3 linked regions of the Homo sapiens genome follow. The protein of the gene in region 1 purifies or fractionates together with the protein of each later gene. This does not show direct contact. Each region holds a gene or a part of one and is shown on either strand. Other genes may lie near its edges.

What was found.
Region 2: the proteins of RNF220 (region 1) and LMNB1 purify together in Homo sapiens (affinity purification with western blotting, with the first as the bait; one study listed by BioGRID). This does not show direct contact.
Region 3: the proteins of RNF220 (region 1) and SMURF2 purify together in Homo sapiens (affinity purification with western blotting; one study listed by BioGRID). This does not show direct contact.

Annotation. Positions count from the first base shown.
Region 1 is NC_000001.11:44,639,248-44,642,898, reverse strand, and holds part of RNF220 (E3 ubiquitin-protein ligase RNF220), read right to left. Parts: intron 1-3,651. UniProt on the Homo sapiens protein: E3 ubiquitin-protein ligase that promotes the ubiquitination and proteasomal degradation of SIN3B. Independently of its E3 ligase activity, acts as a CTNNB1 stabilizer through USP7-mediated deubiquitination of CTNNB1 promoting Wnt signaling.
Region 2 is NC_000005.10:126,818,523-126,822,173, forward strand, and holds part of LMNB1 (lamin-B1), read left to right. Parts: exon of another isoform or gene 1-399; coding exon 400-620; intron 621-2,387; coding exon 2,388-2,613; intron 2,614-3,651. UniProt on the Homo sapiens protein: Lamins are intermediate filament proteins that assemble into a filamentous meshwork, and which constitute the major components of the nuclear lamina, a fibrous layer on the nucleoplasmic side of the inner nuclear membrane.
Region 3 is NC_000017.11:64,655,684-64,659,334, forward strand, and holds part of SMURF2 (E3 ubiquitin-protein ligase SMURF2), read right to left. Parts: intron 1-3,651. UniProt on the Homo sapiens protein: E3 ubiquitin-protein ligase which accepts ubiquitin from an E2 ubiquitin-conjugating enzyme in the form of a thioester and then directly transfers the ubiquitin to targeted substrates.

The sequences.
Region 1 (3,651 bases):
TCACTTACAGCTTGCGGCACCCAAGTCCTGCCAACCCCCCTTCCCCAAGTACACGCAGCTCAGCAGCTGGCCTCACATCTTCTGCTCGGCCTGGCCCTGCCTAGCCCTGCCTTATAAGTGGAAAGCAGAGAACCCTGGCACCACATGTGAGCCCAATATGGCTCCATGGCAAAGCAGAGAAAACAGGGTACCCCAAAGCTGCCAGGAAAAGCCCCAGCTTCTCAACGCAGAAAGCAGCCCTGTAGCCTGAAGTCCTTTTCTCTGTAGTCTTACTGCCCACCATGCCTGGCCCAGGACTCATACTCCATTAAACAGAGCTACTGTGGTCTCCCAAATCCTGTGCTTTCTCATGCCCCCATGCCTCCGCACCTCCTGCTCTCTGCCTAGAACCTTCTCCCTCCTGGTCTACAATATACATGCCTGCTCCTTTGGCAAGTCTGACTCAGCCCAACCATGCCTCCTACCATTAACTCACAGTGCCCACACAGAGCAGCTGCTCTCTAAATCCCTGCTAAAGGAAAGAACTCTCACCTCAATGCCATTCTTTCAACCTTTATTGGGCTCATCCTCTGTTTGGCTCCATGTTGAGAATAGAGAGCTTCAAGATCTGATCCCTATCCTCATGGTGCTCTGCGTGGCAGATGGGGCTTCCCACGTTCTTATACACAGGTGTCCCTTCCCTGGTGTCCACCCAGAATCCTGTGTAACTCCAAAATCATATTTATTACCACCTATTGTCACTGTCCCTCACCAGAGTGGAAGCTGCAAGGGTCCCAAGTTTGACTCACTGTTGTGATCTCAGCATCACCCAGCAGAGCTGGCCAGGCTGATGGCTGGTGCCACACAGCACACCCCAGCAGTACTGGCTAAACACTGGCGACACTGCTCTATTAGGTCCTAGTTAGCTGGTGGCCTAGAGAAATCTCTCAGGATACAACTTTCCTTATCAGATCCCAGCTCCCAGCCGGGCAGCAGCTTTCTGTTCCGCTGGCCAGTGAGGCAGGATGGACAGCACGACACACTTTGTTTGCCAAAGAAAAGGCCTCTGCCTCTGGTCTGAGCCATTCACTCTGACCCTGACCCCATCCTCCAGCTGAGACAGATGTTGGGAACCTCTCCCTACCCCCACAGGTGTTCAGAACAGGCTGCTGCTGCCAATTTCACTCTTGTGCTGCCCCAGCCTGCTCCAACCTCTTTCCCAGCACATTAAACTTTATTTTCTTAATGAAATGTCACTTGCTGACTTCTGGCAGAATCATAATAAAAAGAAACGGCCATAAAGCCGTTTTATGCAGACAGCGCCCCCGCCAGCTTGCCCCCCCTCCCGCTTGGAGAGGAAGGCTCCACAGTCGTTTGATGTTCTCAGCTGCTGGAATATCCCAAGCCAGTACTCAGAGGCAAGATGGCACAGACAGCTCCTTTCCAAGTCTCTGGCTCCTCTTCCATGTAGCTCCAGCGATAACAGGCAAGCTGCCACTCCTACTACTGCTATCTAGGGAAGGAACTCAGCCCCCAGGACCTCCAAGATGGCCCAGAGTACCCTTCAGTCACCAGGGAGGGCCTCTTGCTACAGTTCTGCCCCAGCTTAAAGTGGCATAAAGGCCTGAGCCCCCACCCATAGGCAACCTAAGCCTGATGGTCAATGATACCCAGCAGGGTGGTGCCAGAGTTGTCCATTCCTGGCGGGGTGGGTAGTGCAAAAAAAAATATCCTTCTCCTCACAGTGAAAACTGAGCAACAAAGAGGGAGAGAGTTAAGTGCAGAAATGAAACACAGGTCTACGTTTTATAAAAACGACCCTTCTCCCATAAACTCATTTCTTCCTGGGTTATTGAGAAGGGAGAAAAAAAAAATCAGTGTTAATTTAATCAATTGATCAGATGATCGATTGAGAAACTGGAGATGCCCGTTTACTGGGGGCAGTATCGTCCTGGAACCTGAAACCACAAAAAAGGAGGCATCGATTTCCTCACCTGCTGCTCCCAACAAAACCAGAGCCCAGGGAGAAAGGAAACGTCTCGGGGCCCTCCAGGGGCCTGTGCTCTCCAACACGGAGGGCAGGGGCAGCAGCTTCCGGCGAGTTTTACACTGGAATTAGTTACAGATGCAGTTACGGTGTCTTGTGTAAACGCCATCGATTGGGGAGCTGACAGTCTGGGGAGCTGCGATGCGGGACAATCAATCGGCCTGCAGTGTCACCTGCCACCTCGCTGAACAGTTGACAATGCAATTATCCAGTGTGGAGGCAGGGAGTTGGCGTGTGTCAAACGCACTTAGCCACTTTCCGGGCCTCCTCGATAACGCGTTTCACTGCCTCACGTCAGGAGAGACGCAGAGAGACAGACGCCGTTTAAAACCATTGATACTTGCTCCTTCTGCCTGCACTCCCTCTGTCCTAGCTTAACAATTGTGTTCCAAAAGGCGATTAAATCCCATCAGTTGCCACGGGGGACAGAAGGTGCCTTGCTCCTTGCCACCTCTCCTCACCCCTCCCAACAGGCGACAGAGAGAACTAAAGATGGTAGGGAGTCACAAGGCAGCAGCCCAACCCTCTCCACTCCAAGACCGCCTCCAGCAGTGTGCTGTTCCAACACCTGTCACTGGCTGGACCAACAGCAGAGCTGCACTGGGGGACATTTTTAGCACCTGGGGCTCCCTTCTTTTGAGAACTAGCACACCAAAGAAGGCAGCAGCTAGGGCAAGGCCTATGTGCCCATGCCCTGGGGCTTACAACACCTCTTACCCCCTTGCCCCATACTTCTGGCGCTGAAGTTTTATCAAGAAATAGCCAGATAAAAGATTTGTGCCAGGCCGGGTGTGGTGGCTCATACCTGTAATCCCAGCACTTTGGGAGGCCGAGGTGGGTGGATCACCTGAGGTCAGGAGTTCAAGACCAGCCTGGCCAACATGGTGAAACCCCGTCTCTACTAAAAATACAAAAATTAGCTGGTTGTAGTGGCACATGCCTGTAATCCCAGCTACTCGGGAGGCTGAGGCAGGAGAATCTCTCGAACCCAGGAGGTGGAGGTTGCAGTGAGCCGAAATCGTGCCACTGCACTCTAGCCTCCAGCCTGGGTGAAAAAGTGAGACTCTGTCTCAAAAATAAATAAATAAAAAGGAAAAGAAAAGAAAAGAAGAGAAAAGATTTGTGCCACAGCTGCTCTGCCTGTTTGCTTCATGACTTCTCATCCAGCTACTTGGAACCGGCTTAAATGTAAGGAACTCATGAAAGATAAGAAACGCTTCAGGCCAGGACCTGAGCAGGACAAAGACCCTGCACTGCTGACTGTCTTAACACCCTTCTTTTCCCTACCCACTCCTCCTGTTTGGTTCAGAGGGGCTTCATGCTGGATTTTAGCAACGCAGTCACCGCCAGGGCTTAAAGATACAGCTGCAGGCTTCCATTTCCTGTGAAGCTTCCTGGGAAATTTCTCCATCTCACCACTCTTGTGCCCACATCATTGCCACCTTATTTGAAACCAATCATTCCCATGTCCTCTTTCCAGCATGTCCCTTCCAGATGTGAGGAGCTCTGGGCTCCCCAATGCAGTTGGGTGAACTCTCACTGGCAACCAACACACAGGAGGGACCATGGTTCACCACTATAGGTCTCTTCTCCAGGATCCAGGAGCTGGATGGAGGACAGGAGAG
Region 2 (3,651 bases), on another chromosome or scaffold:
TAAGCCACCACACCCACCCAGTGTTCTTATCTTTTTAAGTTCTTTATTTAATTTATACTTTTGGAAGTAAAGGCTTTGTAAGGGAGCCAGACTTGACTTTTACCAAAACCACATCTTAACATTTTTTTGGCTAAGTACAGAAAAATTATATGTATATTTACAGAACTTACATTTGTGGAATATGTCTTTTATTCTTTTATCAGCCAAAACTATCCTGAGGTCTGTGTTTTGTATTTGAGGAATTTTGGGTTTTAATTTCTTAAAATCTCTTGAATTCTAGTGAGTTAGAGATTCCATAGGGTTGTACTGTTTTCCAGTCTAGGAAATGATTTAAAATAGCTGCCTGGTGCTAATGTTGGAATGTTCCTAGAAAGTAAATATGTTTCCTTGCATCTTAAGTCTAGAGCATGTTTGGAAAGGATTCAAGAATTAGAGGACTTGCTTGCTAAAGAAAAAGACAACTCTCGTCGCATGCTGACAGACAAAGAGAGAGAGATGGCGGAAATAAGGGATCAAATGCAGCAACAGCTGAATGACTATGAACAGCTTCTTGATGTAAAGTTAGCCCTGGACATGGAAATCAGTGCTTACAGGAAACTCTTAGAAGGCGAAGAAGAGAGGTAAGGAACTTAAGGGTCACCCTACCTTATGGTCCACTTTTTGCCTCTCACCCTTTTTATTGAAATAAAAATAAATAGCATTTTAAAAAGAACTTTATTTTCTTGGTCATTTCTTTGAACACCTAGGTATAGAAGTAGTAATAGATCATATTTCTACCTCATCGCAGAAAATGTTGCTCAAGTACTCTTAGTTTATTTATTATTATTACTTTAAATGCTGAACTGCATCAGGATGGATTAGTTCCTTTGAGATTTTAAGTGTTTTGGTGATTTAATATATTGTAAAATGCCAAACTGGCTGAAAGAGACTTTACATATTATTTATTTATTTATTTATTTATTTATTTATTTATTTATTTATTTTTGAGACAGAGTCTCAGCCTGTTGCCCAGGCTAGAGTGCAGTGGTGTGATTCTCGGCTCACTGCAACCTTCACCTCCTGGTTTCAAGCGATTTGCCTACCTCAGCCTCCTGAGTAACTGGGATTACAGGCGTGTGTCACCACACCCGGCTAATTTTGTTTTTAGTAGAGAAGAGGTTTCACCATGTTGGCCAGGCTGGTCTCAAACTCCTGACTGCAAGTGACCCACCCGCCTCAGCCTCCCAAAGTGCTAGGATTACAGGTGTGAGCCACCACGCCCGGCTGGCTTTATATATATTTTAAATCTGGTCAATGTATAAATATTTTTGACACCTGTTCTCAGAAAAGAGTTCCAAAAGGGCCAGGTGCATTGCCTCATGCCTGTAATCCCGGCACTTTGGGAGGCCAAGGCAGGCGGATCACATGAGGTCAGGAGTTCAAGACCAGCCTGGTCAACATGGTGAAACTCCGTCTCTAATGAAAATACAAAAATTAGCTGGGCATGGTGGCAGGCACCTGTAATCCCAGCTACTTGGGAGGCTGAGACAGAATTGCTTGAACCTGGGAGGTGGAGTTTGCAGTGAGCCAAGATTGTGCCATTGCACTCCAGCCTGGGTGACAAGAGTGAAACTCTGTCTCACAAAAAAAAGAAAAAGAAAAAAAAAGTTCCAAAAGGAAAGTGGCTGATTTAGGATAAAAAGCCAGATAATTTTAATATTATATCCGTTGTGATCATAAGAAAGTACAGGTACGAAAAGAGAAAAAAGTACACCAACTATAACAGTGGCTGTGGTGGGTGGTGGTAGATCAGATGACTTTCTACCCATTTACCAGACTTCTTGCATTATGGTTATATTACTTCCATCCCTAGAGAAAACATTCAGATTGTTATTTTTTAAAAAAGAAAATTGACGATGGGCACCTTATGAAGAAGTTTACATTAGTTAAGGTAAACTTTGGCTTTGGCTAACAGATTGTAAGTAATATTTTGCTTTAGAAATGCATGGGTGGGATATTCTTCTTCTTATTATTATTATTTTGAGACAGGTTTTCACTCTGTCACCCAGGCTAGAGTGCAGTGGTGTGATCTCAGCTCACTGCAGCCTCTGCCTCCCGGGTTCAAGCCATTCTCCTGCCTCAGCCTCCTGAGTAGCTAGTATTACAGGCGCCCACCACCACGCCTGGCTAATTTTTGTATTTTTAGTAGAGACGGGGTTTCACCATGTTGGTCAGGCTGATCTTGAACTCCTGACCTCAAGCAATCCACCTGCCTTGGCCTCCCAAAGTGCTGTTGGGTTACAGACATGAGCCTCTGTGCCCAGCCCTTGTTTTTTTGTTTTTTTTTTTTTTAAGGCGAGAAGGGCATATGTGTTTTAAAAATGAATTGTTTTATTTTTCCCATATAGGTTGAAGCTGTCTCCAAGCCCTTCTTCCCGTGTGACAGTATCCCGAGCATCCTCAAGTCGTAGTGTACGTACAACTAGAGGAAAGCGGAAGAGGGTTGATGTGGAAGAATCAGAGGCGAGTAGTAGTGTTAGCATCTCTCATTCCGCCTCAGCCACTGGAAATGTTTGCATCGAAGAAATTGATGTTGATGGGAAATTTATCCGCTTGAAGAACACTTCTGAACAGGTAATAAAATAGACCCTTTTTTTTCTAGCAAGGCTTTGTGGATTGCTAGATTCTCTTGCAATTGTCATAGCTCCTTAGTTTTTGTTTGGATTCATTACGTCTTCATGGAATAAGGGTTTATGTCCTTTTTACTTAAATTCATAAAATAAAATAAAAATTAAAATAGGAGGAGGAAGAGTTAGGTACCCTTAGTAGTTTAAAGATTTGCTTCATTAACCCTTCTTTAGAGGGCCAGGGCTTTTTTGAAAAGCATGTTCCTTTTATCACAGTGGTTCTGAGGATGAGTTATTATTATTCTCTGCCCTAGCCAAATTTGTGAAGAAGTTGGAGCAATTGGATGAAAATGGTGGATATTCTTTCGGTCATTAACTTAATAAAAAGCTTACTGAAAGAAGGAGATAAGAGCCTGGACTCAGATATTAAGGGAATATTTTTCCCTGCAAATAAATGAATGAACAAATGCTAATACTTTACATGAAAAATAGCATGAAGCCTTATTTTGAAATATGTTTAAAAGTAAACATGAAGTATTCATAGCAGAGATTTCTGAAATTTAGGGCTGGGGCTTTCGGGAGCTCTGTAGTGTGGGCCTTCCCTAGCTCTGCATCAAGGAGCTGGAGGCCATGATGGGTTGTGAGATGATACTAGAGGAAGGCATGGTCTGGGAGCGTGCAGGCGGCAGTGGGATGGATGTCACATCTTGAAACATATGTTCAGGGCCTGCTAAAAGTAGTTTTGAAAATTAGTCTTTTCTCACCACAGTTATTAAAACTATCTTGCATGTGGATGAATATGTAATTTGGATGAGTGAAGGAGCACTAATGAGCACCAACAGTTTTAATGCTAAAGAGAATAGGCTCTAAGGTCTCTTTGTAGCCTTTTTTTTTTTTTTGAGTCTTGCTCTGTTGCCCAGGTCGGAGTGCAGTGGCATGATCTTGGCTCCTCCACCTCTTGGGTTCAAGAGATTCTCCTGCCTCAGCCTCCTGAGTAGCTGGGATTACAGGTGCACGCAAGCACGCCTGCTGATTTTTGTATTTT
Region 3 (3,651 bases), on another chromosome or scaffold:
CGAGACCAATCTGACCAACATGGTGTAAACCCATCTCCACCCAAAAAAAATACAAAAAAAAATTAGCTGGGAGTGGTGGCATGCACCTGTAATCCCAGCTACTAGGGAGGTTGAGGCAGGAGAATCACTTGAACCCAGGGGTCAGAGGCTCCAGTGAGCCAAGATCACGCCACTGTACTCTAGCCTGAGTGACAGAGTGAGACTCCGTCTCTTTAAAAAACTGGCCTAGTGAGAATACTAAACTAAATTATAAAGCTACAATAAAAAAAACAGTATGGCACTGAACAAGAGCTATATCTGACTCTATAACTAATATAACTGAAAAGATACTACATCACTGTGGAAAGGAAGAATTGGTTAATAAATAATGACAAGATGGCTAAATAGCAATTGCAGGGGAAATAGTTTATTAAACCATTTTTTAAAAACATTAAATATAATGTACTTATTTATCAAACTTCTTGGAGAATAAGTTCTTCCAAGTATAGAATAGGAAAAACAAAACAAAAGTTGGACAGATTTTGACTCCTAAGATAACACATTTCTACATGTCCAAACAATGAACAATATTAAAAGACAAATAATTCATCATGGAAATGTTTGTAGCAAATATGACAACAGGTTAATATATTTGTAAGTCTCAGGTAGATCAATAAGAAAAACACTAAGGCTCTAACATAACTAGGACAAGGCCAAACAAGTCAATGAAAATAAATATCATTAGTAAACAGACAGGAAAATATTCTGCTTCACGAATGTTTAAATGGCACATGCCATGAAATTAGCAAAAAATGTAAAATGCAATTAGCTTATACTTATAACAGAATAGTAAAAAGGGACATCTTTATTTACTGCTGCTCTAAATAGGTCCAACTCTTGTAAGAAGCAGCCTAAAGGAAAAATTACTCATGAAACCTTAAAAATATCCACACACTTGAACTCAGTAACACTATTTTTATGGAAGCATCCTAAAAAAAAAGAATCCTTAAAAAAAAAATCAAAGTTACCTACACCAAGATGTTTACAGCAATTATTTGTAATAAAAAATTTGGAAATAAACATTCAAACAAAAAAATCTGAACGATGGTTGCTGTTGAATCTGCTTAACCAGTTATCCTAAAACCAGTCTTCATGGTTCCCATTCCAGTCCATCCTCCATACTGCTCCCAGATTGTGTCTAAACAGCAAATATATTAAAGCTTAAAATCCTGCAATGGTTCCCCCCACCTTAAAAAAAATGAACATCTTGGCAAACTACAGTAAGGTCCAAACTAGGTTGGTCCCTGTCTAGAGCCTCACCTCTTGCCACTCATACCCAATGCATTAGCCATAAAGAACACATGCAGAACTATTCGGAAGTATTTATAGCTCTCCAGCATTCATTAAATAAAATGCCAAAAAGGTCTTAATCCATACTCACACAAGGATGCTGGCTTCATGGCACTTAAAGCATAGGAACAATAAACGCCTACCAGTGGGTTAGGTCTGGTACTAGAAGAGCTTCTTAGAGTCATAGAGGACAGTTCAACTCAGGTCAGGGAAAGTTCTAGGGATAACAGTAATCTTTGAGTTGAGCCTTAAAAGATGGGCAAGTATTGCTAGGGGCGAGGGCATTCATAATTATACTGAGTCATGAATAAAACATTAAGTTCTACTAAGTATGGTCTATTTGAAAAGAGGAGGACATATTACGTCTTTAAGACTCTCACCAAAAAAGGCTCAAATAGGCCAGGCATGGTGGCTCACACCTGTAATCCCAGCACTTTGGAAGGCTGAGGCAGGAGGATCTCCTGAGCACAGAAGTTCAAGACCAGCCTGGGCAACCTGGAGAAACCCCATCTGTACTGGAAAAAAAAAAAAAAGGTAAAAAAATCAGCCAGTCACAGTGGCATGGACCTGTAGTCCCAGCCAGTTGGGAAGCCAAGGTGGGAAAATCACCTGAGCCGGGAGGTCAAGGCTGCAGTAAGCCGGGATTGCTCACTGCACGCTGTTGCCACTGCACTCCAGTGTGGGCAACAGAATGAGATTCTGCCTCAAAAAAAAAAAAGGCTAAAATAAAAATCTTGTATGCCTAAGCATGACCCTTCATTTATCTTTAAAACTGAGTTATGTTAAATGAGATGTTAGTATGTTGTGATAGTAATAGCTCAACCAACAAGAAAAAAGTAAAAGTGATGACTAAAATACACAGACTTTATTACGAATACCAAACTACAAAAAGGACCTTGGCATGTTCTACTGCCTGCCTGAAGAGGGTCAGACTAGAAGACAGAATTTAAAAGAAAAGGAAGGAGCTCAACTACACTGGCTTCCTCCTCAGAAACCAAGAAAATAAAACAAATTGGGGACATTCAAATCACTAACACCTCTAGTATATAAAGTCATTATGGGCCGGGTGCCGTGGCTCATGCCTGTAATCCCAGCACACTGGAAGGCTAAGGCGGGCGGATCACCTGAGGTCCAGAGTTTGAGACCAGCCTGGCCAACGTGGCAAAACCCGTCTCTACTAAAAATACAAAAAAAACCAGCCAGGCGTGGTGGTGGGCGCCTGTAATCCCACCTACTCGGGAGGCTGAGGCAGGAGAATCACTTGAACCCGGGAGGTGGAGGTTGCAGTGGGCCGAGATCAAGCCCTTCAACTCCAGTCAAGAGTGAAACTCCAACTCAAAAAATAAATAAATAAAGTCATTATGATGTATAGGCATACTTAAAAACCTGTGAAATAGAATTAAGCTACAATTTTTAAAGCCTTGAATCGATAAAATATGTAGTGAAACAAGATTAAGACGCTAGCATATCTAAAGGGAAATTTTTAAAGTTAAACTTCCTTACATTATAGACAAGGTTAACCTCCTTATTGCCAAGGGCTTTGAAATTAATAACATGAGAAGCAGCATACAAAAACATTAAATGTATAAAAAGGTCTGAAACAAATGTTCTGGAGGAGTAATCTTATTCTGCTTCTCCATACCTAAGAATTTAAAATATTAGAAATTACACTAAACTGCTTTTTCCAGCCTTTGGTTTTCAGAAACAATAATGGTATAAAAAATTATCCCAAAGTTTTTACTGTAAAGAATATTTTTCTATCCAAACCATTGAAAGAAAAGCCTGTATCAGATATAAGTATAATGATATAGACATTATACATTTTGTAATCAATGTTATAGAAACAGTAGTTGAAGTTGATAGTGTTACCATACAGCCCATTTCAATGATCATATGTTAATGTGTCATAAAGAACAGAAGTAGCTTGATGGATGAAATCAGATTCTAACCCCCAACTGCCTGAGGAATCTAAAATTTGGGATCAAATTATTAAATTAGCCCCACCTTCTTAGCATTGACAAATACCAAACAGTTCACTGATTGTGGTTTTAAGAATAATATGTGGAAAGGTTTAATATCAATTGTGGGCAGAGATCTCATGGCTTAAATATTTCCTCTTCTTCAGAGAGAGTGTGTATGAGTGTGTGAGTGTGTGTGTGTGAGTGTGTGCATCACCATGTAAGAAATGTTTATACCTTTCAGCAAAGGGGCAATTCCACAATAAAGTTATTATCAAGTAACTAAAGTTTATACAGCATCTTGAAATCAAAGGTACTCTATAAATTTAAAATACTAATATGGTATTAACTTAAAGCAAAGAAC